4 linked regions of the Homo sapiens genome follow. The protein of the gene in region 3 interacts with the protein of the main gene of each other region in a biochemical or structural test. Each region holds a gene or a part of one and is shown on either strand. Other genes may lie near its edges.

What was found.
Region 1: of the proteins of PRMT6 (region 3) and HMGA2, one has a biochemical effect on the other in vitro, tested with the Homo sapiens proteins (one study listed by BioGRID).
Region 2: of the proteins of PRMT6 (region 3) and HMGA1, one has a biochemical effect on the other in vitro, tested with the Homo sapiens proteins (2 studies listed by BioGRID, with this or other methods).
Region 4: of the proteins of PRMT6 (region 3) and FBL, one has a biochemical effect on the other in vitro, tested with the Homo sapiens proteins (one study listed by BioGRID).

Annotation. Positions count from the first base shown.
Region 1 is NC_000012.12:65,946,462-65,953,495, reverse strand, and holds part of HMGA2 (high mobility group protein HMGI-C), read right to left. Parts: exon of another isoform or gene 5,372-7,034; intron 5,062-5,371; exon of another isoform or gene 4,789-5,061; intron 2,114-4,788; coding exon 2,081-2,113; intron 1,141-2,080; coding exon of another isoform or gene 1,066-1,140; exon of another isoform or gene 960-1,065; intron 1-959.
Region 2 is NC_000006.12:34,239,873-34,246,731, reverse strand, and holds the end of HMGA1 (high mobility group protein HMG-I/HMG-Y), read right to left. Parts: intron 6,060-6,859; exon of another isoform or gene 5,996-6,059; 5' UTR 5,952-5,995; coding exon 5,817-5,951; intron 4,021-5,816; coding exon 3,937-4,020; intron 3,265-3,936; coding exon 3,214-3,264; intron 1,902-3,213; coding exon 1,848-1,901; 3' UTR 501-1,847; downstream 1-500. UniProt on the Homo sapiens protein: HMG-I/Y bind preferentially to the minor groove of A+T rich regions in double-stranded DNA. It is suggested that these proteins could function in nucleosome phasing and in the 3'-end processing of mRNA transcripts.
Region 3 is NC_000001.11:107,052,700-107,059,699, forward strand, and holds PRMT6 (protein arginine N-methyltransferase 6), read left to right. Parts: upstream 1-3,974; 5' UTR 3,975-4,016; coding exon 4,017-5,144; 3' UTR 5,145-6,595; downstream 6,596-7,000. UniProt on the Homo sapiens protein: Arginine methyltransferase that can catalyze the formation of both omega-N monomethylarginine (MMA) and asymmetrical dimethylarginine (aDMA), with a strong preference for the formation of aDMA.
Region 4 is NC_000019.10:39,843,354-39,850,647, forward strand, and holds the start of FBL (rRNA 2'-O-methyltransferase fibrillarin), read right to left. Parts: upstream 3,027-7,294; 5' UTR 2,948-3,026; coding exon 2,938-2,947; intron 1-2,937.

The sequences.
Region 1 (7,034 bases), on a different chromosome or scaffold from region 3:
TTGTTCTTGCCTCTCTACCTTTCTATATGCCATTCATCTCATCTGTAATTTCTTTCCCTTAATTTATGTTTCAGTTTTCCCTTCTGCAACTCAACAACAACAAAATCAAACAAAACAAGAAAATTCCAGTCTTATCATCCCCTTGATAACCTGAGGCATTCCACTCATTCATCTGTATCCCCCGTGTGTCCCATACACATTGACATTCTGTGGTCATTTGCTCAACAAATGTTCAGACATCTTCTCATGTGTTTTCATGGAGTGTCTTCATCTCTAGTTGCATATTAAACTCACTTAGGGAGTTCATAAAAAATATGATGGATCTCCAGACCAAATAAACAGAATCGCTGAAGGGTGGGGCCATGCTGGGGAGGTAAATGTTTAACTACTTGCTCCTCAGGAAAAAAAAAAGTCCTGATTTGTAGTATTTGTCACTTTCCATGGTGTAAATACTCCCACCATAGTGGATTTCAAGCTACCTACTTGACATCACTGAACACAGAATTCAGAAGAGATGTTCACTATTTGCTCACAAGGGCTGGTTCCAGCATACCACTGGATAGGACACAGGCATATACATATAAATACATTTCTCAGATGCAGTGACTGTTTTTCTTTGTTTGACTCATCTTCCCTATGACACTAAGCACAAGGGCTGAATCAATATTAACAAACCACATAAAGTGATTAATCTATAGTTCACAGCCTGTGATGCAAATGTGAACTCTGCCTCATCCTTTGACTCAAATGCACAGAATTATCAATTTACTTTCTCTTGATTTTTGTACAGTTAAAGGATGAGAGGCTAAATATATTTGGGTTCTCCTAATGAAAATGTCAAGTTTTTGTTTATATGTATATATTTTTAAATATTGCTTAAAGACGCACAAACACTGGGTTTTTTTTAGCACCCCTCTCCCACTCTTAGCTTTTAGGTATGGGAGCAGCAATGAAAATGATTTTTTTCATGGTAACTCTGTTTTTATTCCACTTAAAGCTCATATGTAATTGTTTGAAGACACTTTCCTTGGATCCTTTCATGTGTTTGGAAGTTTCAATTCTCTTCTAAGTGGCATTTTTAGAGAACAGTAGATATATAAGATTGCCCGGGTGGTCCTTCCCAGGCAAGGCAACATTGACCTAAGAAAACAGGATGCAAGGTAGATTTGTAAAGACTTCTAGGGAAAAAAATTTCATGGATACTTAAAATTACATGAAAGAGTTCTACTTAATTTGATAGCTCATGACACTGCTTACTACTTATTTTAGCAGGTTCAGCATGATACCACCTGGATCTCCAATGACTATTTACATACAGAAGGGAAGAGAACAGCAGGACGTTCTTATACTTTAATACTGGCTCACATTATTAGCAATCCTGGTTAATTTATACTTCAGTTTTGTTTTCTTCAAGATATGCTTCCTCAATAAATATGTTTTTTTAATGTTTCTATGTACAGATTATAGTGAGGACAAGGTGCTCCAGGAATATGGGGCAAGAGACGTAGAGCTATTTTCCAATTTGATGTTGCCAAAAACTTCAGAGACTGTGATTCAGTTATTTAAATAAGATCTAAGAATGCATCAGTCTGCACGTTAGTATAACTTAATTTCCAAGTATTCTAGCATTCTTTGGAGTGTTTTGGGATCATCAAATATTATGAAATTGTTCAATGAAGAAATATGTTTCCAGTCATGAATCATTAAATATAAGTCTGGTGTCAACAGAATATAGACAGTCAGTTGGAAGGACAAAATTTGATGTTTAAGAATTGGTAAAATATAGGATAAGATTAAATATTTGTTTTACATATGAGGCAATGTAATAAAATAGTTTTATTTTTAAAAGAATTTATATTTGCTTTGTACACTTAAGACCTTACATTTTGGGAGGTTTTCATGGTACGATTGCAGACTATATATTCCTAACTTTGAAGGCTACAACACATTTTCAGGAATACTGCAGGACGATAACCAAAAGTAAGAAAATGCGAAATAAGGTTTAGTTTGGGGACATTTTTCAGTACATATTTCACTTTTTATATTAATTGGGAGAAAAAAATTAATGACTATGTCTTACCTGAGCAGGCTTCTTCTGAACAACTTGTTGTGGCTAAGGAGGAAAAGAAAAAGATATATTTTAAAAGAAAATATACATTATAGAAAAAATTAGGTGTACATATTTTAAATACAGATACTTGTCTGCAAAGGAAAGAGGAAAGTATAAAGTTCAACTGGTATATCCAATGTTAAAAGTGTTTATACTTGGCCAGGCATGGTGGCTCACGCTTATAATCCCAGCGCTTTGGGAGGCAGAGGCGGACGGATGGCTTGAGCCCAGGAGTTGTAGACCAGGCTGGGCAACATGGTGAAACCCTCTCTCTACAAACATACAAAAATTAACAGGGTGTGGTGGCGTTGCAACTGTAGTCCCAGCTACTCAGAGGCCTAAATGGAAGGATCACCTGGGCCAAGAAAGGTCAAGGCTGCAGTGAGCCGTGATCATGCCACTGCACTCCAGCCTGGGTGACAGAGCAACACCCTATCTCAAAAAAAACAAAAATGTCTATTCATGATCTCTCTATATTAAGGAAATACAACATAGGTTATCTCAGTGAAAACAATTCCAATTCCCAATTAAATTCTGGCATACAAGCCAACTAGCTTGAAAGAAACTTAACTGTTTGATTCACTTTGTTTTTAGCCTATATATCACAAAACTGAGGAGTGAAGGTACCTAATTTGTTAATATTTTATTTTTTTAAAACACCTTCACTGAGACATAATTTACATACCACATAATTCACTCATTTAAAGTATATTTTAGTATATTCAGAGGGTTGTGCAACCATCACCACAGTCTAATTTAGAACACTTTCATCTCCTCTAAAAGAAATCTTGTACCCATTAGTGGTTACTCCCCACTACCCTCCACGTCCCTAGCCACCTCCCATGCCTAAGTGACCATGAATCTACTTTCTGTCTCTATGAATTTACCTATCCTGACATTTCATGTAAGTGGAATCATACTATATATGTAGAGTCTTTTGTGTGTGGCTTCTTTCACTGGCCTAGGGTTTTCTAGGGTCATCCATGTGGTAGCATCAGCAGTTCATTCCTTTTCATGCTAAATAATTTTCCCTTGTATGGGTATACCACATTTTACCTATCCATTCATTAGTTGGTGGACATCTGGGGTGTTTCCACCCTTTGGCTATTATGAATAATGCTACTATGAACATTTATATACACGTTTTCGTGCGAACATGTTTTCATTCTTGGGTATGTACCTGGGAGTGGAATCGCTGGTTCATATTGTAATTCTTTGTTTCACTTTTTGAGGAGCTGCCAGACAGCTTTCTAAAGCAGCTGTACCATTTTGCAGTCCGTCCCACCAGCAATGAATCTGGAGTTCCAATTGCTCCGTATACATGCCAATGCTTGTTATTGCCTGTCTTTTTGCTTGTAGACATCCAAGTGGATGTGAAGTTAAACATCATTGCTGTTTCAATTTGAACTTCTCTCACAACTAATGATGTTGAGCATCTTTTCATGTGCTTATTGGCCATTTATATGTCTCCTGGGAAGAAATGTTTATTTAAATCCTTTGCCCATTTAAAAAAAATTTGCTATCTCTTCATAACAAAGTTGTAAGAGTTCTTTTAATGTTTTGCATTCAAGTCCCTTATGATTTGCAAATAATTCTGTGAGTTTGTTCAGTTTCTTCGTGGTATCATGGGAAGAATATTGTGTTATATTGTGTTATATCTGTATCTATTGTATGTGTAGAGCAAAACTCTCCTCTTTTGAGTGAAACATCCGAGGGAATGTTTTTCTGCCTGCCTAACTTTCCAATCGAGTATTAGAGAATACTTCTTATTTCTTTGGCATTATAAAAGATGGATTTGAAGCCTGAGCTTTTCGATGGATTATTTGCTTCCAGTCCTCACTCTCATGTCTGAATATAGGCATGTATTATTCTATCTACACATCGCTGAGATTTGTGAGTACACCTGAGGTACTCTGATGTGGATAGCGACATGCTTTCTTGCACCAGTTCTCCCAAATAACAGCACTTAGGATACGTTCACTATTCACTAGCCCCTGTTCATTCATTCTGAGAGCCCCTTCCTCTCAGAGTTCCTCTCAGTGGTACAGTGGTTTATTGCTGGTACATTAAAAATTCCATATAAAAATCATTAGAGCTTTTTTTTTTTAGATGGACAGAATAAAAATAAAATAAATGGCAAGGTACTTTTGCTCAAAGGAAAAGACGTTCTTCCATTTGACTTTAAATCACAGTAAAGATGACGTCATCACAAAAGCCCAAGTTTTGAGATGATGTTTTCTCCAGGGAAAATCGAACCAAGAACGATGAGGACTTCTTGCCTCTTAGGACACAAAAGCGTGGGCTAATAGAGGATTCATTTCCAAAGGGTCATTTGGAAGAAGAGAGCACTCATCTTCCTCCCATTTTTCCCTGTTGATTACACCTGTACACATGTTTACTCCCAAACCGTTTCAAATCCACATACATTCTTGCAGGCTGACTGGTTCCTACTGCTCAGAAATCCCCCTCCTTTTTTGGCAGAGGCTCCCGCATTCATGTGACTCCTGCACACTGCAGCTCAATGAAATCCTCTGAAAGAGCTGCCAGCTCACCCAATTTTCCATGAATTAGGTCCTGACACTTCAATGAGGGGAAAGACAATGTCTGAATCTCTGCCAGCCCTGGCTCCCGGCCTAGTCCGTGTCACGGAACTTCTACCAGCTACCCTCAGACACAGCACTTCATACTTTTCAGACCACCAAACAAACAGACCCTTGAATACTTTCAATGTTGGTTGGGGTTATGGCTGCCAGGATGTTTTCCCAGCCTCTGGCACCCAATGGCTCCAGACTGTGCCGAGAAAGTTTTTGTTGTTGTTATTTTGTTTTGTTTTTATTTTTATGAATGGCTTTGGTAGAAAACGCAGACTGAAGCATAATACTACCACCATTCATAAAAAGGGAAAGGAAACAAACTGCTGTCTGGAAAGCTTTTTGGACGCCAAACAAACTGTAAGTCTCTTATCTTCCTTGGGGCATCTCTCGGCTCAGAACTAAGTGTTGATTCTTAGAAACCAGTTGCTCCTCGGGGTTCTTGGCATTAAAAACACGACTGGCCACTAGAGTTTTATAAGACCTGAATAACATCAATGATACATATTAGTCTTCTGTGTTGTTAACAGTAAATTTTCATGCACCTTAATAAATGAGTAATATTTTGCACATGCATTTCCTATATGAAAGCTAGAATCCTTTATATTTTTAACATCTGCCCCTTTGTTACTGGGAGGGTCCAGGCCTTACTGTTTTCATTTTCTCACAGGGAAACCAAGGCATAGGGAATTTAAATAATCGTCTGAGATCTTTTTCTAAAACCAAAACAACCCGAGTCTACTGATTCTCTTAATCCCTGATATAATGCTCTGAAGAAACCCAGTCTGTTCCTTGAAAAAAAGAAAAAAGAAAAAAGTCAAATCGAGATCCAATCCAGGAGAAGCTGTACTTCCCGGCTTTGATTTTCATCTCCAGATTGTTCAGCAGGGCCTAGTTCTGATTCCTCCAGGTTGCTGATGAAAAGTGAATCGCAGGGGACAAGAGTCAGACCTGCAAAGTCCAGCTGCCTCACCTCACTTGGAGATTCTTCCTTCATTATCAGTTGTGGAGGGGCTGAGTCCCTCTTAAAGGTGTGTACATCATAATGACTGTTCAGTGAACAGATAGCAAAGCCTTTCAAGTTGTTTAGACAAATCTGATGATCCAATTCTAAGTGTGCACATAGGGAGTTTATACAGTTTAGGCACTTGGTCAACTTGGCATGCAAACCCTTCAATGCACTGAGATTTTGAGTTCATTATGTTGAGACTATTGCACCTTTCAAAAAGCTTGTAATGAAAATCCTCATTCCATGGTTGCATTGAAACTTCTAAAATACAATGGGGTGAAAGAGAGCTTCCTCCCAGAACAAAACATCAATAGCAGCATTGACAAAATCACCAAAGGACTTTGAAGAAATTTTTTGGATTAACAGATGTTAAAACGAAACTGTGGCCGGGTGTGGTGGCTCATGCCGGTAATCTCAGCACTTTGAGAGGATTGTTTGAGCTCACGAGTTCGAGACCAGCTTGGGCAACCTAGCAAGACTTCATCTCTATTAAAAATAATTAGCCAGGTATAGTGGCGCATGCCTGTACTCCCAGCTACTCGGGAGACTGAGGTGGGAGGATTGCTTGAGCCTAGGAGGTTATGGCTGCAGTAAGCTATGATCACACCATTGCACTCCCGCCTGGGTGACGGAGCAAGACTCTGCCTCAAAAAAAAAAAAAAGTGGTGAGAATTCAAAGACCCCATGAGTTGAACATACCACGTGAAGCTTAAAAGGGCTCTTTCTAACCACATGGATTTCAGTGAGTAGTTCTCTGCAGTCTAGCCCTTAGAATGGACTAGCTCAGCCACAATTGAAAGTATAATGCTTAAGCAAATAAATATCATTGTTAAAGTATATACAAATAGCTTAGGGTACAACATGCTAAGAAACTGTAGAAGATAAGCAAAAGGAAAGGACATATTTTTGGATTTCTGAGGTCATACAGCAAATGAACATTTCTCCAAATGGAAGAAAAAAAGTTACTGAATTTTTAAAATCCACAGAGTATTTGGATTTTTAAGATTTTGTAGAGAGACACTTGTGTAGGAAATGGTCTGCCATTCCACCTATTTCAGAATAATTAAGAAGTTCCTCAGCCCTCCTAAGAATACAATCTATGGTTCCAGGAAGTCTAGGTATTTTAAAGCTGATACTCAGACAGCTAAGCCACTCCTTCTGGTAGGTATTGAAAGAAAATCCTTGCTAACAAAGGACCCAGACATTAGTAGTTCATTTTAGTACTAATCTAAACATTAAATAAAAAGAGGCTTGAATTGAGCTTACAAACTTAATTTTTAAAAAAAAATTAGGCACAATGTATGGTAAAGCAAACATGATTATT
Region 2 (6,859 bases), on a different chromosome or scaffold from region 3:
TGCTGTCACCTGGCTCCCCCTGCTGGGTGCTGGGTCTCCATTTCTCCCTCCACCCACCCTCAGCAGCATCTGCTTCCCATGCCCTCACCATCACCTCACTGCCCCCAGGCCTTCTGCCCTTTGTGGGTGTTGAGCTCACCGCCCACCCACAGGCACTCATGGGAAGAGGCTTTCCTTCTGGGATGGGGGCGGCTGGTAGACACCTTTGCTTTCTCTAGCCCTCCTGGGCTGGGCTTGGGCACAAATCCCCAGGCAGGCTTTGGAGTTGTTTCCATGGTGATGGGGCCAGATGTATAGTATTCAGTATATATTTTGTAAATAAAATGTTTTGTGGCTAGGGGTTTTGATTTCATCAAGAGGCTTAAAATGACCTTCCCCGGAGGTGATTCCAGTGCTATTTCCCCTCCCTTCCTGCAGCCTGAAGGATGGGGGCCAGAACACAAGTGTCACCCATCCTACCTGCCCCAGGCTTTAGGGGCACACACCACAGGAGACTCCAGTCCAGAAAAGGATATTTTTTTTATTCAAGTAACTGCAAATAGGAAACCAGAGAGGGAGCCCCAGGCTGGGACAAATCATGGCTACCCCTCCCCAACAGAACAGGGGGAGGAGGTGGCCCCTACACCCTTTATGGTCGATTTGGGCCCCCTTGCTCACTCTGCTGCAGCATCCTAGGGGCAGGGCCCCACCTTCCCTGGGACTGGGGTAGTCGGTCACCCAGCCTGCCATGCCCCAGCCCCTCTTCCCCACAAAGAGTATCTTGGGGGAGGGGATCGTGGGCAGAACAGGAGGCAATGAGGATGAACATTTGGCGCTGGTAGCAGCAGCAATGACGGATGTCGAAGAATGGAACATTGAACAAAAAACAACACAACTGTCCAGAGGTAGTTTGTGAACAGAGGAAAAATGGAACCAGAACCTTGGGGGGCAGGGAGGAGCAGGAGGGGGGTTGGGAGCGGGCAGGGTGAGCTCCTTGTTATTGGTGCCCCATCTGAGGAGGGGGAAATGGCTGAGTGGCGGAAGCAAAGTAGGGTTAGGGGAGCAGCCCCAGCCCACCTCAGGTGGCGGCCACAGGGCTCTTGGGCCTCACCTGGACAATAAGTGACTGCATCTCCATCACCACAATATGTACTCAGATCCCAGGCGGAGGGCAAGGGGGCTGTGGCCACAGTGAAGAGGGAGTAGGGGACTCACCCCTCCTGCCTTCCTGTAACCGAAGGGGGCTGTCCAACCTAGTACGGGGACTAGGGAAGTTGGGGAAGGATGAAAAGTGAGCCCCACGTGGTGACAAAGACAGTTTGGCTGGGGGAATCCTGGGGGCCAGCACCCCCCTCCATTGGCCACACCTGCTGCTGCCAGGGCAGTGGAGTAGGGCGTGCCAGGATGAGATGGGGCTTGGGCCCCTTTTAAGGCCAGGGGAACCCTCCCAGGCCCCACTATGGGAAGCCAGAGGGAACAGTGAAGGAGCAGAGAGGGCGCCCCCAAACCAAAAGCCCAGAGAGCAATGTCCCCACCACCAAGGGAGTGGGGACGCAGCAGGTGCAGGGTGCGGCTAAGTGGGATGTTAGCCTTGTCCAGGAGGGCATGTGTGTATGCGTGGGTGGGCGGGGGGAGCTGGGAACTGAGGCCAGGGGAAAACTGCTCCCCACTCAGCCCATGGGAGCCCTGCAGCGGCTGGTGTGCTGTGTAGTGTGGTGGTGAGGGCACAGGTGGAAGATGGGGGTGGCGGCCAGAGGCGGTGGTGATGGTGGGCCTGGGGAAGGGGTGGGGGCGGTGGGAGCGGAGCAAAGCTGTCCAGTCCCAGAAGGAAGCTGCTCCTCCAGTGAGGAGCAGGCGGCACGCATGGGTCACTGCTCCTCCTCCGAGGACTCCTGCGAGATGCCCTCCTCTTCCTCCTTCTCCTGTGAGGTGGGCAGTTGTTGGTGTGAGCTCTGGCCCGGTCCCCCTCTTCCACCCCCAGAGGCTGGCCCCACCCGCTCCCTGCACTCCCTGGCTCTCCTGAAGAGGGATGAGTCAGGGCTGAGTGTGTGGGTGACTCAGCAACCTCCACGGCCCGGCTTCATTCATAAAAAGAATTTAAAAGGAGGAAAAAACCCCACACACATGCTGCTCTCACCCAGAGCCAGGAGCCAAGCCCCCTTGGCCCCCAGGCCCAGGGAGGGCAGGAGGGCAGAGCTCAGGGCAGCAATGAGCTTCAGGATGTGACTGACTCCCTAGGGGAGAAGAGGAGGTGGGGGAAGAGGTGGCTGGGGGAGGAAATGGGAAGGGGTGGCTGGAAGGTGCAAGAGCCCGCTGGTGGGTGCAGGGGAACCAGGTCCTTGGCCCACAGGGGCAGATGCTGTGCTGTGGTGCCCTGGCCCTCCGGGGTGGCCGAGGGCTGACCCTAGGCCGGGGTGGGGAGGAAGGGGAAGTGTGTGCCGCCGGGGCTCACTCACTGGGCGGGAATGTCGGGACACCACACGGGGCTACAGCCCCCGTGCCAGGCACAAACTCCAAAACAACTTGTTTCCTGTTACTCACTCTTGGGGCCTGGCCAGCAGCACCCCCTAACCCCCCCACCCCAGCAGTGGCTCAGCTCAAGGAATGACAGCTTCAGGGATTTGAGGGGGCAGGCTGGGGGTAGGAGAGGGCCAGGAGCTGGAAGGCTGGGGTGACCCTAACTGCAGTGGCCCCCTAGAGGCAGCTTCTTGACTCAGCCCACCGAGCCTTTCCACCAGCTGTTTGGGGACCCAGAATTGGATGGTGCCCTCCAGTGCAGTGTGGTGGGTCACATCAGAACTCCAGCACCGACCCCTCCCAGGGCCCAGCTCCTTCGCTGTTTCTCTTCTGCAGAGGCTCATAGGAAGGACAAACCTTCCCCCTATGGCTTCCTTTCCTCATCTCTAATTGAGGGGGACACAGGCTAGATGACTTCCAAGATCTCCCCTAGAAGTTCTGAGTATTCTAGGAGCAGGAGAGGGAGGGACCCCCACACACAACTAGGGCAGGGCAGGGCAGGGGGATGTGGTCTGATTTATACCTGGGACCCCTCACTTCTCATGGGCACAGCCCAGGCCAGGTACCTTCCCCTCTCTGGACTTCTGTAAAATCTGATGTCCCAGCAGGTCAAGGAGAGCCTTTCCATAGGGGGTGCATAGCATCAGGTACTGTGTACTCAACACCCTCAACTCAAAAGAGCCCAGGAGGCAAGCAGCAGTCTGCTTCTTCACCTACCAGTTTTTTGGGTCTGCCCCTTGGTTTCCTTCCTGGAGTTGTGGTGGTTTTCTAGAGGGTTAGAGAAAATATCTCCTAAGTCCAAAATGCTCATCAGTGCTCACCCGATGCCCAATAGTGATGGGGGGCAGACCTACCTGCCTGTTCAGGGTGACCCAACACTCTCACCCAACAGGCCCACCCAAGTCCAGCTGGCAATGACTGGCCAGCCACATTTGCCCCCTCGACATACACACACGCCCCCTACTCCCACCTCCGCCCATGACTCAGAGGATATGAGTCGTGTCTTAGAAAAAATAAAATAAAAAACAAAACAACTTTTCTGAAAGGCTAATGTCACTGTGAATCTGGCCTTTGCTGCCTGTCCCCACCCCTTCAGGCTCCAGGGAACCCCAAGAGAAGGTAACATTCTCAGCCCAGGGACTGGCAGGGACCCTCCATTCTCCCCACTCTGCCCTTCTCTAGATCAGGAAAGCTGTGGGACTTCTGACCTGATCTCCGCAGTGTCCTGGGCAGGACCAACCCCCCAGAAGTAAGACCTTAGTCATCGCCCCACTCTCCCCAGTTAGCAAAGACTCACTGCCATCCCTGTACCAGGGAAGGGGGTACACAACTGAGATGACTGAGCCCCTTCCCAGACCTCCCCACAGCCGTGGCCATGGTGCCAACAAGAGGATCCTCTGCTAGTCATCCACCCAGGGGTAGTCCCATCTCAAGTCTCACCCGGGTCTTGGCAGCACCCTTGTTTTTGCTTCCCTTTGGTCGGCCCCGAGGTCTCTTAGGTGTTGGCACTTCGCTGGGCTCCTTCTGTAAAGACAGAGGGGGTAGTCAGGGACAGTCATCACCTGTTTCCACCCCCTCAGAAGACACAGCCCTCTGCCTCCTCAACAAGGTTAAGTCAGCAAGAACCAAGAACCACAAACCATCCCTGACCTAGGAATCCCTTCAGGATCCAAAGCTCCAGTTTGAGCATCTTTGCAAAGTGCCTCCCACCTCTCCCCTTGCTTCCCTGCAGGTTTCTAAGATGCAAAATGACAAGAGCCCAGAAGACCCCTAGGAAAGGCATTCTGGGGACAGAAAGACAGTTAGGTGGCTCTGCCCAAGTCTCAGTTCTGACACTTATCTTGGGTGGGACACTTAATGCTGGAGCCTCAGTTTCCTCATCTATAAATGGTGAAGACTTCCCTTGCAGGGTGTCATGGAGATTAAATGGGTAATGTATGGTTATCTAGCACTGGGCCATGATCACTGCCCACCCTCTCAGATGACCTATGCTGGACACACACTCCCTGCCTGCACTTGCAAACCTGGAGCCCATCCAGGCTGCCCCCAGAGAAGGGGAATTATAGCCGGACTCCAGAGATCCCTGCCATCATTCCCACTGAAATTTTAATAAGCCGTAGATAGAATAAAAAGCTGCTGCATAATGCATATAAGGTGTGTGGTGAAGGCGCGCCAGCTACTGTTTCCTAGGGGGCCGCCCATGGTCTGTCTATAACCAGGGTCCAGTAACCCTGCACCCCTCCTGACACCTCCCACTGACCATGGCTAACAGGTGGGGTAGGAGGGGAGGCTGAGGGAGCTAGGCTAAGAGGACAAATGACCCCACCCCAGGCTCTGAATTCCAACACAGCAGACTCCTCACAGCTCGTGTCTCCCTGGGCCCAGGTCAGCACAGACCACTCTCCACCGTACGGACAGGGAAAACCTGCAGGTGAACAACCTGTATCATGTTTAAGGGGCAGAGGTCGAACTCAACTCCTCTTACCTCTCTCCCAGGGAAGGGAAGTAACTGGGCTTCACCAACAGCCACCCTTCACTTGGGTGACAGCTGCCTCTGTAAGAGGCCAATATGGGGTCCCCCCCATGCCCAAATGGCCATGCTCCCTAGGGTGCCCCACAGCGCCAGGCTGGCAGCCTCATCCTTCTATGAGGACTTTGTGGGGAGAGCAGCACCAGGGTTCTGAGGGTCACTGCCACCAACTCCCCAACATTTTTGACTTCTTGGGCTTCAATTTCCATCTAAAGAGCCAGGGGCAATGCCCATTCCAGAACTACTCATAACTGGCCTGTGCACAAACAGGTGCTGGCCCACGCAGGCACCCGTTTCTCACCTGGGATGAGGAAGTACAAGAATCGACCATAAGTATTCAGCAACTTTACAGCAAATTGACAAAAATCATTTTACGTGCACTGAATCTAATGATTAAAAACCCTGGGCTTCTATGTTCATTTTTGTTCATTCGTCTTTACTGCATTTTAAAATTACTGGTCCACAGTGGATTGGAAATTAAGAAAAAGGCGAGTGTTTTAAGCACTGGCCATGTGACCTCTGGGGTGCTTTAGGTTTGGACTGTTTGCCATTGGCTTCAGAATTTATCTTGAATTCCTCGGCCCCCGGTTCTCTCCTGGGGTCTCTATAGAGATCTGACCAGGGTTGCAAGTGGGGCAGGAGTACACACAGGTGGGAGGACACACCCACACGCTTACTGCGCAGAATCATTCTGCACCCTCCATGCATGGTCTCGCCTGCTGAATGAAACTCCAGGCACCTCCCTAGCCCCAAAGGGTAAACCAAGTGAAGCAAAGGTTTGGACACCCACCTGACTCCCTACCAGCGCTGTCCCGGGACTCACCGGAGGCTGCTTGCGCGGCCTGCCCCGGCCCCGCTTCTCAGTGCCGTCCTTTTCCTGCTTGGAGGCCAAGGGCTGGCTGGACTTCGAGCTCGACTCACTCATCTTCCCTTCTCTAAGGAGCAGGTGGAAGAGTGATGGCTGGGATGCTGGGAGACAGAAAAGTGCTTTTAGACAAACATCTCGCTTCAGCCACTTTCTACCCCCTCATCACCCACACCTTCAAGGCACACTGCAGAAAACTGTGCTCCCATGGGCCCCCAGGCCTCCTACTCTGCCCAGGATGGAGGGGTCTGCCCACCCCCAGATGCTGCCAAGGGCGGGGAAGGGCCGTTGGCCCTAATCAGCTTCTTATCTATCTCCTGTTCAGAAGGGCTCTTTGTTGTCCTGCCTTAACACCGCCCCAGTGCAGCGTGGTGGGGGGGGTCCCAGGAGGTACAGCCAGCCCAGACCTAGCTACATGGGTGAGGCCACCCTGGGACAAAGGTGTGGGGAGGTGAGATCTGACGTATTGCCAGCATCCCCTCCTTCTGTAGTCAACTGCTGCCCTTTCTCTTTAAGAGAAAATCCAGCCTACGCAGTTCAGTGGGAAAATGGAAAGAATGAGACCTTGCGATCTGGCAGCTATGGACATTGATCCCCTGCCCACCTCACTGACAATATTGCCTATCTGGCAAGGTGCAAGACTCAGGACCAAAAAGAGCCAATCACACAGCCAGGGGTGGTGCCCACCACCAGCTCTCTTCTCTGTTCTCACCCAGGGTAAATCCCTGGAGAATTCAGATTGGTATAATTGAGGGAGGGAGGAGATGGTTGAAGCTAGTGGGTGAGGTGGGGGAGGAAAGTGAGCCCAAAGCCAAAGGCCACCCTCCTCTTTCCCCTTACCCCTCCTCTGCCCAACTGGAGTCAGATGGGACTTTGTCAGATGGGTAGGGAATTCTCCAACTGAAATGCACCGCCTAACAGACCCTGGCTGGCCCTCATCCTTTAGGATGAGGTTTAGGGCTCATCCT
Region 3 (7,000 bases):
AGCAACAATCTGGAATATGGAAAGGTCCAGATTCCAGCACAATGCACTAGGTTCTCAGCATAAAAATGAAAAATACAAAATCTTGGTGTTCAAATGTCCACAGTCCAAAGCCAGATATATAAATAGTTCTGATACAATGATACAAGTGCAAAAAGAGTTATATGTATTAAAGGGCCATAGACTGGCTGAAAAAACATCATTTGAGCATTAGCTAAAAAGATGAGTGAGAGGAGGGAAGAGTAGAGGCACGCAAAGCAAAAGTACAGAAGTCCCAAAATTCATAGTGTTTTTGGAGAACAGTAAGCTGTATATTTCAAACTTTTAACCATAACCTGAAGCAAGAAATATACATACAGTACTTTTTTTAGACGGAGTCTCGCTCTTTCACCAGGCTGGAGTGCAGTGGCACAATCTCTGCTCACTGCAACGTCTGCCTTCCGGGTTCAAGCGATTCTCCTGCCTCAGCTTCCTGAGTAGCTGGGACTACAGGCGCGTGCCACCATGCCCAGCTAATTTTTGTATTTTTAGTAGAGACAGGGTTTCACCATGTTGGCCAGGATGGTCTCGAACTTCTGACCTCGTGATCTGCCTGCCTCGGCCTCCCAAAGTGCCAGGATTACAGGTGTGAGCCACGAAACAAGTTTTATGAAATAATACCCACCTTTACTCATTTGACACATTTAGTATTTTCTGATCTATTATTTCTTCTTAATGGTGGTCAAGTTGCACTAAATTAAAATTTCAAGATCATTTGTTTGAAAAACTGGGTTTGAGCATTGAATAGACGTGGCAAGCAGATCGCTGAAATGAAAATACTAAGAATGCTCTGCCAGCAGAACTCCAACTCTTCTCCCATGCAGGTGGTTTGCTGCTGAGCCGCACGGCTTAGGGAAGGGCTATGATCTAGGTCCCTTTCCTACTTAAAACATCTCACTGTGGTACAAAAGATCAGTAAAGAACTCCTTCTCTATATCAAATAAAAGGGCAGGAAAGGAAAGTGCCACAGACCTTTTTTAATCTGCTCTAGGGATAATGTTTGGTGCTTACCACTATTCTATCTAGAAGCATTAACAGTATTTAAAATTTATACTATTCTCATTTCTGGGAGCATTCCACATTCTATCTATATCTGGATCTATCTCAGAGTTTACCAAGTCACATTGTCACATTGAACTAATGAAGCAAAACTCTCTACATCCACAATAGACTTTGTTCAAGACTATTTATTGAGCACTTTCTATGTGCCAGCTTCTGTTGTAGTGCTAAGGACTGCAATAGTGGGAATACAAAAGTCCAAGTCTCCTGGAGTTGATATTGTATAGAAAACAAATAAATTAATTAAATACATACAGATAATAATGAATGCTGGGAGGGAACAAAATAGTGTCTTGGGTTTGAAAATATTATTTAAGGAAGCCAGGAAAGGCCTTTTTCATGAGGTAACATTTAAGTTGAGACATGAAGGATGAGAAGCCACTAAAGTGAAGTGCTAAGGAGAAAAACAATTTTCTCAGCACCAGAAGAGTATGCATGACGACCTGACACAGGAAAGAAATGTGTTATTAGAAACCAGTATATCTTGAGCCCAATGAAGAGTTGGGAAAAATGGTATGAGATGAGATGGGAAGTTACCTGAAGTTACTGAATTGTTCCATTAACTAACACGGGAAGTTACTGAAGAATGACATGGCCCAATGGGTTTTATAAAAGCTTATTCTTTCAGCTATGTAGAGAAGGGATTAGATAGGGTTGAGATTAGAAGCTGAGCGATCCCTTAGGAGACTAATTTTCAGGCAAGTCAATATGGAAGATTAGACTAGGGTGTTGACAATAGAAATGGAGAAAAGCAGATGGATTCAAGATATATTTTGGAGGTAGAACCAGTGAAACTTATATTCAGAATTTTCTTAAAAGAGACCATAAGGAAGTGAATTGAAAATTGGGTGAAGGAATGAATGTATTTAAAAGGAAAAGGTGACATTTTGAGGAAAGAAAGAATGGCAAAAGTATACACTAAGTAACAACCTATTAATAAAAGTAACATATTAAAGTGGTCACATTTACAACTCTAATCTGATGTCCTACACTGGGCCTCAATTATCTTAAAATAAGATATTAAACCAAGGCAGAAAAAGAGAAGAAATACTTCAAGGTTTTTAGCCTTAAATGGTTGAGCCCAGGCCACTGAAAAAAATACAATTTACCCAATTAAAATAACGAAGCAAGATTTAACTAAGATCATTTTAGTGAGAAACAGTTGTTCTCACCCTGGCTGCCCATTAGAATTCCCTGGGGAGCTTTTAAAAACTAGAAGCCCAGGTTCCACTGGAGTGATTCCGATTTAATTGGTCTGAGGTAGACCCAGGCATCGGTATTTTTTAAAAAGCTCCTTAGAGAATTCTAATAAGCAGCCAGGATGGAGAGTCTTGAGTTAGAAGTAGAGTACAGCTAAGGATGCCATATCAATAAACCTATTCTGCTAATGAAAGATTAATAGAGAAAATAGGATGAAAGAACTTTGATCCCAGACAAGGAATACAGGCCTATTGGTTACAAGGACATAATTCAAGACCACAAGAAAATAAAAATCCATTTTACTCTGAGTGACTTTTTTTTCAAGCTGGCAGAAAATGGCATTATGCCCACCTTGTTAATAACACGGACACCCATACAGATGCCACACATATTTAAAAACATATTTTATTTCCATTATGGACAACAAAAAGAGAGTAACAGCTGATGGTTGACTACAAGAAAAATATAAGAGAAAGAGGAGAGTGTCAATATTGCCCGGACAAGAAAACACAGGAAAAAATGAATTGCATTGAGAAAGTGATTAAAAGAAATTGATTCCGTTATTTCTGAGAGAAAAAAACGCATATATATATAGAATACACCTAGCAACGAGTTTGCTTGTATCACATGGCTCTTGAGTCTGCACTTTTCAGGATTTAACTCTTAAGAGAGCCACAGAATTATCAGAGCAGAGCCGAAAGCCAAGTAACTATTCTTCTAAGTAGAACCAGAAACCTAGTTCTTCCCCAACTGCAATGAAGATTCGCTGGTGGGTGAATGGGCAACTAAAGGCCAGAGAAGTTCTATTATTTGCCCTAAATCACTCAACTAATTAGTGGTCATACTGGAATCAGAACCAAGATTTTGCATTGTTAGGTTTTAATTTTGTTACATTTGCACTCTAACTGCACTGAAAACAGAAAAAAGAAATGCGTAGTGCAGTTTCTAAATTGCCACAGCTGGAGCACTTTAAGAGCTACAATTGTCCAGTTAAGGCGGTAGTGGGTGGATGGTGCTGCCATGTTAATTCGGTGGAATAAAACCAGAGGTGAGTTAGGCCGGGCGCGGTGGCTCACGCTTGTAATCCCAGCACTTTGGGAGGCCGAGGTGGGCGGATCACCTGAGGTCGCGAGTTTGAGACCAGCCTGACCAACAGGGAGAAACCCCGTCTACCAAAAATACAAAATTAGCCGGCCCTGGTGGCATGCGCCCGTAATCCCAGCAACTCGGGAGGCTGAGGCAGGAGAATCGCTTGAACCCAGGAGGCGGAGGTTGCGGTGAGCGGAGATCGCGCCATTGCACTCCAGCCTGGGAAACAAGAGCGAAACTCCCTCTCAAAAAAAACAAAAAACAGAAAAACAAACAAAAAAAACAGAGGTGAGTTCAGCAGAAGAAACAAAGGTGGATTATTAGTCTTAAGTGTGCGTGCCTACTTCAGGAAGGGAGTGAAAGCAAAAAACTGAGGAGCTAAGGGTGGGAGGGGGAATGAAAGGATCTCAGAATGTGGGCGTCGTGGGTGGGAAAAGGGATGCCAGGACACCAGAAGAGCAATACAAAACAGCTCCCGTGAGCAGGCACAGGAGACCTTCCGCGCCGCCGGCCGGGCGACCCCGCAGGAAGTAGGAAGGACGAGCGCGCACTACAAGTCCCAGAAGCCCCCGTTTCCTGGAGCCCGCGCCGTGCCGCGCTACGCCCGCCGGGAGCCGGGCAGAGCGGCCAAGATGTCGCAGCCCAAGAAAAGAAAGCTTGAGTCGGGGGGCGGCGGCGAAGGAGGGGAGGGAACTGAAGAGGAAGATGGCGCGGAGCGGGAGGCGGCCCTGGAGCGACCCCGGAGGACTAAGCGGGAACGGGACCAGCTGTACTACGAGTGCTACTCGGACGTTTCGGTCCACGAGGAGATGATCGCGGACCGCGTCCGCACCGATGCCTACCGCCTGGGTATCCTTCGGAACTGGGCAGCACTGCGAGGCAAGACGGTACTGGACGTGGGCGCGGGCACCGGCATTCTGAGCATCTTCTGTGCCCAGGCCGGGGCCCGGCGCGTGTACGCGGTAGAGGCCAGCGCCATCTGGCAACAGGCCCGGGAGGTGGTGCGGTTCAACGGGCTGGAGGACCGGGTGCACGTCCTGCCGGGACCAGTGGAGACTGTAGAGTTGCCGGAACAGGTGGATGCCATCGTGAGCGAGTGGATGGGCTACGGACTCCTGCACGAGTCCATGCTGAGCTCCGTCCTCCACGCGCGAACCAAGTGGCTGAAGGAGGGCGGTCTTCTCCTGCCGGCCTCCGCCGAGCTCTTCATAGCCCCCATCAGCGACCAGATGCTGGAATGGCGCCTGGGCTTCTGGAGCCAGGTGAAGCAGCACTATGGTGTGGACATGAGCTGCCTGGAGGGCTTCGCCACGCGCTGTCTCATGGGCCACTCGGAGATCGTTGTGCAGGGATTGTCCGGCGAGGACGTGCTGGCCCGGCCGCAGCGCTTTGCTCAGCTAGAGCTCTCCCGCGCCGGCTTGGAGCAGGAGCTGGAGGCCGGAGTGGGCGGGCGCTTCCGCTGCAGCTGCTATGGCTCGGCGCCCATGCATGGCTTTGCCATCTGGTTCCAGGTGACCTTCCCTGGAGGGGAGTCGGAGAAACCCCTGGTGCTGTCCACCTCGCCTTTTCACCCGGCCACTCACTGGAAACAGGCGCTCCTCTACCTGAACGAGCCGGTGCAAGTGGAGCAAGACACGGACGTTTCAGGAGAGATCACGCTGCTGCCCTCCCGGGACAACCCCCGTCGCCTGCGCGTGCTGCTGCGCTACAAAGTGGGAGACCAGGAGGAGAAGACCAAAGACTTTGCCATGGAGGACTGAGCGTTGCCTTTTCTCCCAGCTACCTCCCAAAGCAGCCTGACCTGCGTGGGAGAGGCGTAGCGAGGTCGGAGGGGAAAGGGAGATCCCACGTGCAAGTAGGGGGAATATCTCCCCCTTTTCCCTCATAGCCTCTAGGGAGGGAGAGTGACTTCATTCTCCATTTGAAGAGATTCTTCTGGTGATGTTTACTTAAAAAGTGATCCCCCTCAACAACGGATACAGCGTGCTTATTATTGGGCATTTAGCCTCAAAAGCATGTAGTACCAAGCACTTGTATTTCCGTATATTTTGTTTCGCGGGGGAGTGAGGGGGAAGAACACGGATGAAAATGTCAGTTTTTGAAGGGTCCATGCACATCCCTGACACCTCACACCTTATCTAAGTCTGAAGCTGGGGAGAAAGGGGTTCATTTAGACTTCATACATTTCCAGTACGACTTTAGTATCTCTCCAGAGCCATATTTTCTCAGTCCGAATTAATTCCCCCTCCCTAGGTGCCTGTAGGCTATGGTACTTCTTCCTCATTGTTTTCTAGGTAAACTTCACTACTGGTAATTAAGGGGAAGGATATGAGGAAGCAGTTTAAATAGCCCTGTTCTCATTACTCTGACCACATACATCATAGGGTGCTAAAGTTGATGAACACATTAATCCGTTAAGTAAAATGGACTTTGTAATTGTACAGCATACCTAAGAAACTCAGAAGGTGCATTTAAGAGAGAGACCTGAAAGAAATAGTATGGATTTTTAAAAATTCTTGTCTCTACTATTATAACCAAAAAATATTTCTTGTATGTCCCATAAAAATATTTGTGTAATTCTTATGAAACAGGCTGGTAGAGGAGGTTTCTGAGCCTAGCCCAAGGGCTTATTCATCACCATGGGTAAATTATTTAAACTCACTTAATTAAGGAAAATATTTTCCCAGCTAGAAAAGTATACTCATTCTCATTTAAACTCTCTCATTTGGAGGGATCATGTGAGTTGGCCTACTTACAAGTAGTGAAAGTTCCCTTTTCAGTTTTGTTTTGTTTTGTTTTGTTTTTCTCTTTCACTCAGCCAAATGTGAAAGTTGTGAATTTAGGAAAATCACTTGTAATGAAGTGTGAATCTTGTTATCAAATTTATTTCTCTGATGTTTCCTTCCTTATCCTTGTAGCCAATAAAACATTGACATTCTCACGTTTTATAGATGAGGTAAAAAGTCTTGTGTGCTGTGAGTTATAATGCTTTTGCCTTTTTAATATTATTAGTTCTTAAGTGTTACAGCCCCTTCAGAATATAACTTCAGGACAATTCAAACTATGCTTAATGTATGATTTTCGAGCTTCTGTATGCTAAGAAAATAGGTGTGAAAAACTGGTGTTCTGAAATAGCCTAACATTTATTGTAATTCTGAATTTTCTGCCCTTTTATTCATTGCATATTAAAGTATTAGAGTATAAAAACTAATTTGCTAAACTTTGGTTGTATATAACACAGATCTTCCATCATGGAGAGATATACATGTACAAAATTATCAATTTACAAGATAATTGAGTAGCAAGCAGTACAGTTGTAACCGTCACCATTTTGATGCTAAGATAGTGATCATCTCATGTAAATGCTACAGTCACAGCAAGCTAGACTTAAGCTAGAGGGAAAATAGAGCTCCTTATAAGGTGTTCTATGTTTTAAATCAAATATTTATTTAGAGTTTGAGTGTGTGATTTTGAGTAGGTTTCTGGTGGTTTGGTTTGTTTTTTAAAAAAAACTTGATTTAACAATTCCTTTACTAAGTGATAAATGAGAATATTCTTCCAAATTCTATTTTTTATATATTTGATAAATACTATAGAGTTATCATTATCAGTATAA
Region 4 (7,294 bases), on a different chromosome or scaffold from region 3:
AAGTGCCGGTCACTCCCCTCAAGTATCGCATATGGAGAGATAGGCAATGTTGCTGCCACTCTCGACCCTAGTAAGGAAGGTTCATAGGGGTCTTGAAAACTTCATCTGTAAGACATGGAGACAATACAGTGCCAGGCCACGCGCCATAGCTCATGCCTGTAATCCCAGCACTTTGGGAGACCCAGGCAGGCGGACAGTTTGAGGCCAGGAGTTCAAGACCAGCCTGGCCAACATAGTGAAACCCTGTCTCTACTAAAAATACAAAAAATTAGCTGGGCGTGGTGGCGCATGCCTGTAATCCCAGCTACTCAAAAGGCTGAGGCACAAGCATCAATTGAACACAGGCGGAGGTTGCAGTGAGCTGAGATGGTGCCACTGCACTCCAGCCTGGGTGACAGAGAGAGATTCTGTATCAAAAAAATAAAAATAAAAAAAATGCAGTGCTCATCCTATAGGGTTGTAAAGATTAAATGACTTGTACCCACAGAGCACATCACATATATACTATCTGGCACCTACTTTGAACATCATCATTCAAACTCAGGGGTACGCGTCTCCTCTTCCCTCCTCATGTACCAAAAGTACCCATTCCTCAGAAAAAACACATGTTCACACAAACTTTTCCAGTTAGTTCTTTTTTCATCTTTCTATTAAAGATGAAAATGTAACTTTTAATAGCTACTCCTAATTTGATCTTTTAAAATGAAGTTTCCTTTTCAAAACTCTAGAACATAACTAAGAGTTGTTCACTTTTTAATGTTCTACTCCCCCTACAGTCCACTTTCCACACAGCAACTAATAAGTGCTGTTTTTGAAACAGCAACTCAGATCTCAATTTTCTTGCCCAAGCCCTCCAACAGTTTTCCAAAGCCAAGACCTTCATTTAGGGGAGATGCCACAGCTAGGCTTATGAAAGTCTCAACCCAGGCCTAACAGAAAGGAAGTACTGGCATGTGCTTGGGGCGGAGTGGGCATGAGTGTAAACTTTCAATCCCAGATACTCAAAACATCTCAATCCGTTTCAGGTCCTGGAGCTTTTGGGGGAAAATGTACCAAAAGTACCCAGTCCTCAGAAAAAACACATGTTCACACAAACTTTTCCAGTAAGTTCTTTTTTTGGGGGGAGGGGGGTCCATAAACCCCCTGATTTAAAATCTGCTCTCCTTCCACAGCCTTCTCCATCTCAAAAATGGCAATTCCATCCTTCCAGTTACACACCCCCAAACCCTTGGTTATCCTTGACTCCGATCACACACCCACATACAATCTGTTGGTTCTGTCTTCAAAAGCATGTAAAACTGTCAGCATGTCCACTGCTCCCATCCTGGTCCACCACACCATCTCCTAGATTACAGCAACAAGCTTCCCACCAATGTGCCTGCTTCCACTTTTGCCACCCTGAGGTCTTTCACACATCGAAGCAAAAAGAATCCCTTTTAAAAATGTCAGACTGCACCACGCCCCTGCTCAAAAATCTCCCAAAGGGTTCTTTTCTCACTCAGGCTAAAATCCTTACTAAAGAGCTAACACCTGACAACTTTTACAACTTCACATTCTACCACACATGGAGGAAGGTTGGAAGAACGGGTATCCTCCATTTATGAGGGAATCACAGACCAGAATGCCTGCAGGCAAGCCAGGATCTCAGCATACCTGGCCTACAATCCCCCACCCCACTTCATCAAGAGATCCCCAAACACGGAAGAGAAAGGGAACTTGGGAGAAGGGCACAGATCCACAAATCTCCTGCCAGGTGACCCCCATCTCTCCACACAAACACACACACAAAAGAAAAAGAAAGCCTGTACTAGGAAAACAGACCCTTTGGGCCATGGTGGAAATTCTCCAAACTCAATGAAGCAAGTTCTCACACAGATGAGTGCGGGTTGGGCAGGCCAGATGGAGGAAGTGCTCAGGCACCACCGAGAAGGATTCTAATGTTGTTCTCTTTGAGAAAGATAAAGGTAACAATTAGAGCTAATACTATTATATGTCAAGCACTGTGCTATTTTTTTTAACGTCGCTTAATCCTAACTGGCGCCATTTTATTGATGAGAAAACAGAGGCTCAGAGAGGTAAAGCCACTTGCCCAAGTTCACACAGCAGGCTAAGAAGCTGAGCAAGAGCTGACACACTGAACTGAGGCCCTTCTGCTGTCAAAGCCAGGACCCCCTCATCATTCCACCATGAAGGGAGTGGTTTCAGCAGAATCTAGTGGAAAATCTTAAGAATAAAACTACTTACCTCCTGTGACAACCACCCGCCCCACCACCCCAGACTAATGCCGAGCTTGTTAAGTCTCGTCCCGGAGGTGGAAATCTTAATCCCCAAATCTCCACTCCATCCCCGGGGATCCGCCCCACTGTAAGTGCAGAAGGCGGGAAAGTGAGCCGAAGAGCGCCGCACACGGCCAACCGGGGAGTCCTCATCCACTCCGGCCCACTCGGAAAAGCTGGGATGCGGGATAAGGGGATGGTGGTGGTGGCAGCGACAGGGAAGGCAAATGGGGGCTTCCCACACACAGCTCCAGGACCCAAGGTCAGGAACTCTCCATCTCCGACCCAAGCCTGATTCCCAAAACACGCCCAGCGATCCAAGACTCCAGATGCCTGAATCCAAACTCTAGCCCAAGACCCTTGAGTGCCGCCTCCTGCCCAATATCCAAAATCCCTATTAGACGGCCTCAATGAGACGAACCCCACGTCAACACCCCCAATGCCAGGCCCACGGCCTTCTTCGACTCACGACCGTGACCTCTGAAGCCAGTCACAAACCCCTAGACCTGCTGGAATCAGAATCCCCCTTCCCACAGGAGACTGGAACCCGTGCTCAGAACCCCTGCCCCCAGGCCAAGGCCCCACCCCTCCGATTCTGGCCTGGCACCCGGATTCCCGCCCGGCCTCCGTCCCTGACCCCGGACCCTCACCCCAGCCTGACCTGGCTTCATGGCGAGCCCTGGTTTGTGCGGCTCCGGAGTCCGCGGCGTTCACAACTCCACGAGTCCGGGGCTTTCGCACGTGGAAAAGAGCGCAGGCGCGCGGCGACGTGCGCTGCGTGACGCCACCCCGTAGTCCCGCCCCCGGGCCCCTTCCCCGCCCGGAGCTCGGCGCACGCGCAGTGAGCCTGGATTCTCGAGCCTGTCGACACGCAACCCGCTGCCCTCGCTCTCTGCCTTCCCAGCCTTTGCCTGTGCAGCGGTCGCCCTAAACTCGCTTCCGGTTTCCTCTTCCCCAATGCGAGCACCCCAATAATCAGGGCTCATAGCCTTCGCACGGGCTGTGCCCTCTTTTGTATTCCTAGCTAAATCCCTCTGGCCCCTGTACACCCAAAAAGGCTTCCCCAATACATTTCCAGCCCCAAGAACAGTGACCGACTCTGGGCTTCCATTCAAACATCCGAAAAACATTTACAGTGCACCTCGTGTGTACCAGGTGCTGTTCTAGGAGCTGGGAATACAGCGGTGTACGAGACATAAAAATCTCCACTCTCCTGGAGTTCATCTTTTTAATGGAGGAAATAGACACCAAACATGTTGAATGTTTGAAAGCGATAAGTGCTTTGGAGAAAATAACAGCAGGGAAAGGGGATAGAGATTTTGGAGGGCAAATGATTTTTGTTTTTTTGGCACGGTGGTCAAGGAATGCATCAGGAGACTTTTGAGCTAAAGGGCTGAAGGAAGTGAGGAGTGAGGCATGCACCTATCTAGGGGAAGAGAGTTCCAGGCAGGGAAAAGATCTGCAGATGCAGAGGCCCTGAGGAAGGAAAGATATGGGAAGTTGGAGAGACAATGAGGAGGGTGGGTGGGGCAAAGTGAGCAAGGTGGAGAGTAAGAGGAGATAAGGGCGGGTAGCTAACAAGGGCAGATTGTGCGGAGCTTTGTGGGACATAGTGAGGACTTAGGCAGTAAGATGGAACCATGGAAGGGTTCCAAGCAGAGAAGGAATGTGATCTGACACAGGTCCCTCTGGCTGCATGTGGGAAGCAGACTGCAGGAGTGAGGGTGAAAGCAGGAAAACCAAGGACTGGCTGCTGCCGTGAATCAGAAGAAAAGGATGGACAGATCAGAGTGGGGGCAGAGAGCGGCGTCAGGGGTCAACAGATTCTGCTTAAGTATTAAGAATTTTGGGCTTTGTAATTGTGTAATATCAGTATCCATCCCTATATTCATTCTGCAAAGCAAGACAACTGCTGTTATGAGAAGTTACCGAAAAACTCCAGAAGAACCTACCAGTCCAGAGCCTAGATGTTGACTCTGTTCCATTCACTGCTCTATCACTCTAGGCCTAGGACAGCCCTCTGGGTGCCCAGTAAATGTTTGTTGAATGAATGGATGGCCTCATACCGTTGTGAGTTCTCTGTGTACAGTGTTCCAGCTGTGGAATGCCACCAATTTGCACAGAAACATTCCTGAAAGATTGTTTAGATATTATGATGGAAAATCTGCTTAAACTTTTCAGAACCGGTCGGGGCAGTGGCTCACACCTGTAATCCAGGCACTTTGGGAGGCCGAGGCAGGAGGATCGCTTGAGCCCAGGAGCTTAAGGCCAGCCTGGGCTACAGAGTGAGACCTTATCTTTACAAAAAATAAAAAATTAGCTGGGTATGGTTGCTTGCACCTGTAGTCCCAGCTACTCAAGAGGCTGAGGCAGGAGGATCCTTTGAGCCCAGTAGGTCTAGGCTGAAATGAGCCATGACTGCACCACTACACTCCAGCCTGGGTCACAGAGCGACACCCCTGTCCCAAAACAAAAACAAAAACCAAACAAAAAAAACTTTTTAAAAACTATGAGATGAAATAGTTGAGTCTATTCTGGATTTCTAGATGTGCAATGATTCCAGTGGGTCCAATTCCGGATAATGTTACCTATTTCACATGGATTTTACTATTTGCCTTCTAATTAATATTTTTCTTCTAAAGGACAAAAGTACTCAGAGTGCAGTGCAGATTTAGGGGATTCCAGCCCTATTTCTTGGAATCCTGGCACCATCTCCTGCTTCTGAGATACTTTGCCTGCTAGCTTGCTCTGAAGACCTGAAATTGGCTCTATCGGTAAGTAATTAGTGGTGGAGGTGCCTGTTGGTCTTGTGCTGGGGACACAATGGTGGCTAAAACAGCCCCGGGTCCTGTCCTCCTGGAGCTGCCAGTCCAATAGGAGAGACAGACAGGTTCCCAAACAGTGTTGGCCCAGAGGGGTCAGGGCTGGGACAGGCAGAGGGGTAGGAGGGCAATGGGGGAAGCACCGGCAGAAATGGGACTGGGGAGCCCCAGGCAGGGGGCTCAGGGCCAGGATAGGGGAGGCCCAGGCAGAGAGGTGGGAGGGGGATGGAGGAGACACTGGCAGGCAGGGCAGGGCAGGGATAGCGAAGCCCTTGAGGACTTTTCCCAATATTCCCCATTTCCTCAACTCCCTCTGAACCTTCCTGTGACCTTCTTGCTCTAAGGAGGACTCTGCCCTGAAGACCTCCCTTTCCAAGCGGGGCTGTTTTCTCCTTCTCGGCCTTCATGTCCACTGGATCTGTAGATGGGAGAAGAGCGTCCTTGCTCCTCACTGGCACTTCTAAACCATTGTCTCTGCCTCCTCCCTGAACCCTAGGTCTGAAGCTTACACAGTCACACTGTAGCACCTGCTCCCCTTTGTGCTGCTAGACCCATTGACTCCCAAGTCACCTCTGCTCACCTCGTCATTTAGCTTCAGGCTCACTGTCACCCACACCACTCCTGTCATTATTCTTGGTGATTTTCAAATTCAGGTAAATGATCCTTTTACCACTCTGGCCTCTTGGTGCCTTGACCTCCTCTCCCCCACTGCACTTGTCCTCCACCCAACCCTTCTTTCCCATGATCACACCTAGACCTTGTGCTGGGAACACACAACAACACATAACTGTGACAGCCCCAGAGGTCCCAGCCTGGTGGGGGAGAAGGACCCATTCTAGATGGCAACAGCCGCATAACCACAGCCCCTACAGAATCTCAGCTCCATGCATCTCACGCTCTGCCCGTCACCTCCTGTCTCTCCAGCTCACTCCTTCTAAAGATTGCACCAGTGAGCCTTCAGCCCTAACCATCCATTAAGCTGTCTGACTTGTTGCTATCCCTCCCCCAATCATGGCCACACCACTCTCAACTACCTAGCCAGATTCCCCACCATCATTATTACCACACCTTTGCATACCTCCAAACTATGAACTGAATTCAACCCTCCATTTATTCTGCACCTGCACCCCTGGCAGCTGAATGTGGATGGAGAAAAATACAGAATCACCCTGGCTGGTCTCGGTTTTGATTCATGACTACAAACCCAAATGCTTAATGCTGACCAGCAATCCTATCACTTGCCCCCAGTCTATTCATTCTCCATTTTTTCCCACCCTGTTGATGGTATAGATAACACATGGCCATGGGCTGAATTGTCTCCCCACACATTCACTTGTTGAAGTTCTCACCCCCATTGTTATGGTATTTGGAAGTGACAGCATTGGGAGGGATTAGGGTTGGAGGAGGTCATGAGTGTAAACCCTCATTATGGGATTAGTGACTTTATTATTATTATTATTATTTTTGAGACAGAGTTTTGCTCTTATTGCCCAGGCTGGAGTGCAATGACATGATCTCGTCTCACGGCAACCTCCACCTCCCAGGTTCAAGCGATTCTCCTGCCTCAGCCTCCAGAGTAGCTGGCATTACAGGCATGAGCCACCACGCCCGGCTAATTTTGTATTTTTAGTAGAGACGGGGTTTCTCCATGTTGGTCAGGCTGGTCTCGAACTCCTGACCTCAGGTGATCCACCCACCTTGGCCTCCCAAAGTGCTGGGATTACAGGTGTGAGCCACCGTGCCCGGCCAGGATTAGTGACTTTTTAAGAGGGAGAGAGGGAGAGATGCAACCCAGGAAGAGGGCCCTCACAGAGAATCACATCAATCAGCACCTTGATCTTGGACTTTCCAGCCTCCAGAGCTGTAAGAAATAAATCTCTGTTATTGGAACCATTCAGTCTATGGTATTTTAAGACAGCCCACACAAACAAACACACATGTATTAATTTTTAAAACTTTATTAAGGTATAATTTACATACCATAAAATTCACCCATTTTGGCTTGGCGCGGTGGCTCATGCCTGTAATCCCAACACTTTGGGAGGCCAAAGCAGGCGGATCACGAGGTCAGCAGTTTGAGACCATCCTGGCCAACATGGTGAAACCCCATCTCTACTGAAAATACAAAAATTATCTGGGTGTGATGGTGCATGTCTGTAGTCCCAGCTACTCAGAGGCTGAGGCAGAAGACTCGTT